Homo sapiens: one gene and its partner. The protein of the gene in region 1 purifies or fractionates together with the protein of each later gene. This does not show direct contact. Each region holds a gene or a part of one and is shown on either strand. Other genes may lie near its edges.

The links. Proteins that work in one complex are often made in the same cells at the same time.
Region 2: the proteins of KCNQ2 (region 1) and GOLM1 purify together in Homo sapiens (affinity purification with mass spectrometry; 3 studies listed by BioGRID and IntAct, with this or other methods). This does not show direct contact.

What each region holds. Positions count from the first base shown.
Region 1 is NC_000020.11:63,445,156-63,448,655, reverse strand, and holds part of KCNQ2 (potassium voltage-gated channel subfamily KQT member 2), read left to right. Parts: intron 1-85; exon of another isoform or gene 86-215; intron 216-1,818; coding exon 1,819-1,909; intron 1,910-3,291; coding exon 3,292-3,418; intron 3,419-3,500.
Region 2 is NC_000009.12:86,079,059-86,082,558, forward strand, and holds part of GOLM1 (Golgi membrane protein 1), read right to left. Parts: intron 284-3,500; 5' UTR 263-283; coding exon 134-262; intron 1-133.

The DNA.
Region 1 (3,500 bases):
GAACCCAGGCTGGACTGCAGCACTGCTTTGGGGACAGAGGGAAGGAGATCCTGAGTGTGGGGAATCTCCCTCCCTTGACACCCACCTGGATGTGGGCGCCGGGGAAGGGCTCGGGTTTGAGACACAGGAGGGCCCCACAGGCTCCGTGGCGGTCGTGTGGTGCCGCAGGGTGTGCAAGGTGATGGCGAGTGTGAAGACAGTACAGGGGCGCGGACACGGGGAAGCGGCTGCTCTGTGGCTCCGTCCCCGCCGGCTCCTGGTTCTGAGCACGGTTGGAACGAGAGGCAGCAACACGGTCAAGGTGAAGGCGTCTCTCACATTGCCTGGAATGAGGGCGTGTCCCACGCATGGCCTCCTTTATGGCTGTGACGAAGGACCTGGACGTTGGACACGTCCCCTTCACATCCCAGAACACCTGCGAAAAATGTAAATGAGACAAAGCATTTGCTTCCTGCGAAGTGGGTTTCTCTCTGGTGTGCATTCAGTGACTTCAGCACGCGGGAGTTGGCTTTCCTGCCAAAGCGGCAGCTTGAGGCTCTGGGTTGCACAGCTTTGCTCCCAGGAAGAGCTGGGAGATCTTCTATGTCTCTTCTATGTGGGTGGCCTTGTTGCAGCCACAAGCCGGGTTCCCGCGGCAGGGTCTTCGGGGGCTAGCGGGCTCCTCCTGTCTGCAGCTTCCTGGGGTGGGCAAGGGAGCAAGTGTAGCAGAGTCGCTTGTATCAGAGGAGAATGCAGGGCTGAGAAAAAGTCACGCATTTGGGCCGAGCATGGTAGCTCATGACTGTAATCCCAGCCCTTTGGGGGGCCGAGGCGGGAGCATCACTTGAGCCCAGGTGTTCGAGACTAGCCTGGCCAATGTGATGAAACCCCATCTCCACTAAAAAAATACAAAAATTAGCCTGGTGTGGTGGCACATGCCTGTAATCCCAGCAACTCTGGAGGCTGAGGCGGGAGAATTGCTTGAACCCGGGAGGCGGAGGTTGCAGCGAGCCAAGATCACGCCATTGCACTCCAGCCTGCGCGACAAGTGAAACTGTATCTCAAAACAAAACAAAACAAACAAAAACAAAAATACCCACATGCATTTGGGGGAATTTTGGTGGGGTGTGAACTTGAGCATCTGAGGGGAAATTGAAGAAGGATCAGTGAGTGAGGTAATCGCGTGGGACGTGAATGGGAAGAGCAATCATGGTGGAAGTCACTGGCGGGAGGAGGTGCCTGCAACCCGGGAGGAAGGAGAAACGGAGCCTCCTGGCAGCCAGGACGAGGCTGGAAAGAAGGTGATCCGAGGAGCTCCTGTTGCTTGGCTCCGGGTTTAACTGGCAGAGAGAAGCCCTCTGCGTTGGGGTCTGGAGGAGGTGGCCGAGAGTGAGGAGAGGGGAAGGCTGATCGGTGCCTTCTGCCCCAGGGGTTTTGCTTGTTCCTGTGTTTGTAGCAGTTGATGGGCAGGCCTTGCTGTTCCCATTTGACTGAGAGTTTTGGAGACGTTGCCAAAGGATGAGGCTGCCAGGCTGAAACCAGACAGAAGGGGCAGGGGCCAGAGTGGAGAGGGGGGTGCGTCCTGGAGGGGGCAGCTGCGCATAGAGGGGGCAGCTGCCACTGTGGAGTTCAGGGTCCCGGGAGGTGGCTATGGGGGTGCCCTCTGGCCCGAGCGAGCTCTGGTGGGGTGGGTGGGGAGTGGGGTCCTGCGTTCTGGAGACGCGGCCATGCTGGTGCCCTGCTGCGGCCTGGTGGGGAGTGGGGTCCTGAGTTCTGGAGACACAGCCATGCTGCTGCCCTGCTGCGGCCTGTCTGAGAGCGCGCGTTCCCTGCCCCCAGGTTCCTCCTGGTTTTCTCCTGCCTCGTGCTGTCTGTGTTTTCCACCATCAAGGAGTATGAGAAGAGCTCGGAGGGGGCCCTCTACATCCTGGTGAGCCCCGAGGGAGGGCGGGGGCTGGAAGTGCCCAGGAAGGAGCTGGAGCTGCCTGGGCGTCTGTCTTCCGTTCCTGTTACTACAGGGCCTCTGACGCCCCCAGCCCCAGCTCTGGCCATGTCTTTGTGCCCTGTCAGTTCCCATCTGCCCCCAGCCCCACAGCCCGGGCTATGCCCCAGCCCCACCCTGGCTGTAACTCAGCCCTCACCTCACCCCTCCTGGTGACCTCACAGTGGCTGACAGCCCCGCCTCCATCGCCCCCACCCTGGGTGGGCCACCCTCCCTTTCCCATCCCCACTTTATCTCTGGAGCCGGAGATGTGGGGCGTCCCCAGCAGACGGCAGACGTGGGCGTCGGGGTGGGGGCTGTGACGCTTGCAGCAACCCTGTGCCAGGGCAGGGTGGGCGCCATGGCAACGGGAGTGCAGTTCCTGTGTTGCTGTTGGTAACGGGGTGGGGGGCCCTCAAGGAGACTGGTCCCCATCCAAATGCACCTCCCTCTACTGCCCGCCCTGCTCCTCTGTTCTGGGGCTTCCCAAGGTCTGGGTGGAGACTGTGGCCCCCTTTGCAGTTACCTGGGGCCTTCCCTCAGCTCAGCCCTGCTGTGCACCCCCCAACTCAAGGCAGGTCCCCCACTGGCTCAGACAGGGTCCCCCAGCTCAGACAGGGGCCCCCAACTCAGATAGAGTCCCCCAGCTTGGACAGGGCAGCTCCCCAACCAGCTCAGACAGGGTCCCCCAGCTCAGACAGGGTCCCCCAGCTCAGACAGGGTCCCCCAGCTCAGACAGGGCCTCCCAGCTCAGACAGGGTCCCCCAGCTCAGACAGGGTCCCCCAGCTCAGACAGGGCCTCCCAGCTCAGACAGGGTCCCCCAGCTCAGACAGGGTCCCCCAGCTCAGACAGGGCCTCCCAGCTCAGACAGGGTCCCCCAGCTCAGACAGGGCCTCCCAGCTCAGACAGGGTCCCCCAGCTCAGACAGGGTCCCCCAGCTCAGACAGGGCCTCCCAGCTCAGACAGGGCCTCCCAGCTCAGACAGGGTTCCCTAGCCCAGATAGAACCCCCTAGCTCAGACAGGGCAGCCCTGCCAGCTCAGACATGGTCCCCTAGCCCAGATAGAGTCCCCAGCTCAGACAGGGAGGTGGGGAGGGTGGCCCCATGGTGTTCATGCTCAGCTGTGTTCCCGGATGCAGGGTCTCCAGAGGGCCCAACCCTTCCTGCCCAGAGGCTGGAGAGGGGTGGGGGGGTCAGCTTGCAGTTTCCTTTGGGGGCCTCCTGCCCTGTGGCTTGGTCCCTGGGCCAGAACTGCTCCTGTGGGTGTCCAGGCTGGGCCCCCAGGCCCTCCCCCAGGCCTCAAGGTGGCCTCAGCTTTCCTCCCCTGCAGGAAATCGTGACTATCGTGGTGTTTGGCGTGGAGTACTTCGTGCGGATCTGGGCCGCAGGCTGCTGCTGCCGGTACCGTGGCTGGAGGGGGCGGCTCAAGTTTGCCCGGAAACCGTTCTGTGTGATTGGTGAGGCCTGGTGGGGGTGGTATTGCTAGAATCAGGGCCAGGCACCCAGGGACGGACTCAGCCCTGGGGGGAGCTGGGGCGT
Region 2 (3,500 bases), on another chromosome or scaffold:
CTCACCTTACAAGCGTGTGCCCTGCACAAAACGCCCTGGCTGGCAATAAACAACAAACCCCTGGGACCCCATCATAACAAAATAAACAAAACATAAACATAAAATAAACATAACAATAAAGAAAACAAAACACCTGGAGGTCCACGCTCCGGGAGCTCGCAATCCAGTAGTTGAAGCCCAAGACGATGATGCAGGCCACCAGGGCGGCCAGCACGAGGGGCGGCGACTTCATGCTGCGACGCCCGTTTCCCAAGCCCATCATCTCAAAATCAGCGCTGAGAATCTGCCAAGTAAAAGCAAATAAATAAACATCAATACTAGTTTTATCATCTCCGAAGCAGACCGTATCATCCTTACAACCAAGAGGAAAGGAGTCTTGCCAAGAAGCGTGGGCTGGTAGCTTCTCCTTGACGTGCAAAGCTGTCAAGGGAGAAGAGTATGTGAACGGCACGCACAGAGCCCATGGTGCTGTGAACCCAGGGCAGTGTGGCCAGTTCCCAGGACAGGCTCGGAGGAGCAGGCACCGCCCCGAAACCTGCCACAGATTAGCTCGAGACCTGGGGCAAGACATGATTCCTCTTACACTTCAGATTCCTCCCTTGTAAAATCATTACCATACTCACCTTCCCGGCATAGTTTGAGAATTAATCATTTCTGTAAGCAGCAATGTTTGAGAAGTAATCATTTCTGTAAACACCAATAACAAATATTAAGTGCTTCCGCATCATATTAGAAAGAGTATATTCCTCATTACTCCTCAGAGAGAGCTTTTTGCTTTGATTCCTAACAAGGGAGGTTTTTTTTACCCTTGACAGGATTACTAATGACACCCAATTAAAGCATTTCTCAAGCAAAGCAGGAAACCCATTCTGGAGGTGAATGTGAACTCCCCCCCATGTACATCATTATTCAGGCACAGCCCTGGCTATAGAAGTGTCTCCTCCTTCATGACACACAACGGAAGTGGGAGGTGTGCCATCTGCCTGAAGTCACCAGGAAAAATGTGTTCCATCTTAGGATTTGAGGTGGAAACAAGGCATTCACTCCATGCCAAACGAGAGCACCTTCTTTCGAACATTCATTTCTCACTTTAGGGACCGTATCTGTGCAACTGCTGCATTGTACACCTCATGTTAGGAAAAACAGTGCCTCTGTGTGAGAGCTACAGAGTGCACAAAAATACAGCTTAGAAGAAAGATGCCATAAATTTTGTTAATGGGCTTCAATTCAAAGCCAGGTCTGCCTGGATGCAAGCACTGGTCTCTAGGAACAAGGAAAGTAGACTTTTCCAAATGGCTTTTCCCAAGCCAGATAAAACAGAACCTTATCAGAGTGAGCGTGGCTGCACTGCAACAAACAGCCTTTGAGCACAGAGAGCCTTTTACACCAGGGGTGTCTAGCAACAGAGGAGGAAAGGGGATGGTGGGCAAAAAAGACAAGGGACGGGTAAGGAAGAGGATACCACCAAGGATTCACCTGCAAAACCCAATTCTCACCAGTGAGAACATGGGAGAACTGATCCTCACCCTATGGTCTTTTCAGGTGGGTCACCAAAAGGCTTCTTTTTTCTTAACAGCTAGCTACTAGTATGGGGGCCTGCCAGGGGATAAAGAAGCAATCTAGCCGAATCATCTAAAATAAAGCACCCCCAGAATTCCCACGGGTGGAAATTCTGACCTGTGCTCATGTCTTACCAGCTTCTGGCCTCTCAGGATGAAAGGGGAAACCACGTTTTTCTTTCAATTATCAGCTGATATCAGCAAGCACTGAATATACTCAAGAGACTCTTGATCACAAGAGTCTCTTTTTTGACTCTTAAACTTTTTAAAATTTTTGTTTATTTATTTTAGAGACAGGGTCTCTGTCGCCCAGGGTGGAGTCAGTCACGCAATTGTGGCTCACTGAAGCCTCAAACTCTTGGGCTCAAATAATCCTCCTGCCCTCAACCTCTCAAGTAGCTGGGACTACAGACATGGGCCACCATGCCCAGCTAATTTTTTAAAACAATTTTTGTACAGACAGGGTCTCACTATTGCCTAGGTTGGCCTCAAATTCCTGACCTCAAGTGATCCTCCCATCTGGGCCCCTCAAAGTACTGGGATTACAGGTATGAGCCAGTGCACCCAGCCTCAATGATTTTTTTTTTTTTTTTTTTGAGACGGAGTTTCGCTCTTGTTTTCCAGGCTGGAGTGCAATGGTGTGATCTCAGCTCACTACAACCTCTGCCTCCCGGGTTAAAGCGATTCTCCTGCCTCAGCTTCCCGAGTAGCTGGGATTACAGGCATGCACCACCACGGCCAGCTAATTTTGTATTTTTAGTAGAGACGGGGTTTCTCCATGTTGGTCAGGCTGGTCTGGAACTCCCAACCTCAGGTGATCCGTCTGCCTCGTTCTCCCAAAGTGCTGGGAATATAGGCATGAGCCACCGTGCCCAGCTAACCTTGTTTTTAAAATATAAAAGTACAAATACAAGAGGGGGTGGCAGGGACTTTTCCAAATGGCTTTTGCTAAGGAAAAAATAGGAAACTACACACAGTAGAGTATAAATTGGTCGGGTGCAGTGGCTCATGCCTGTAATCCCAGCACTTTGGGAGGCCAAGGCAGGTAGATGGCCTGAAGTCAGGAATTTGAGACCAGCCTGGCCAACGTGGTGAAACTCCATCTCTACTAAAAATACAAAAGCAGCCAGGCATGGTGGCACATGCCTGTAGTCCCAGCTACTCAAGAGGCTGAGACAGGAGAAAAGCTTGAACCCATGAGGCGGAGCTTGCAGTGAGCCAAGATGACACCACTGCACTCCAGCCTGGGCGACAGAGCGAGACTCTGATTAAAAAAAAAAAAGAAAAAAGGATAAATTACATCCCCCTCATCCTACTCCAAAGGAAAGGGATAACATTTTCTAACATCTGGGTCCTTCTGTTCCAGTGGTCCTCAACACTCAAGGGGCATCAGCATCACCTGGGACACTTTTTTTTTTTTTTTTTTTTTGAGATGGAGTCTCTCTCTGTTGCCCAGGCTGGAGTGCAGTGGCGTGATCTAGGTTCACTGCAAGCTCCGCCTCCCAGGTTCATGCCATTCTCCTGCCTCAGCCTCCCGAGTAGCTGGGACTACAGGCACCTGCCACCACACCTGGCTAATTTTTTGTAGTTTTAGTAGAGACGAAGTTCCCCCATTAGCCAGGATGGTCTTGATCTCCTGACCTTGTGATCCGCCCGCCTCGGCCTCCCAAAGTGCTGGGATTACAGGCATGAGCCACCGTGCCCAGCCTGACACTTTTTAAAATATCAATACCTGGGCTCCACCACTGCATTTCTTTTCTTTCCTTTTTTTTTTTTCTTGAGACAGGGTCTCACTCTGTTGCTCAGGCTGACACACTCACTCTGTCACCCAGGCTGAAATAGCTGCCTAGTGGTGTGATCCCAGCCTCAACTCCTGGGCTCAAGTGATCCTCCCACCTCAGCTTCCCCAACTTCCTGGGCTCAAGTGATCCTCCCACTTCA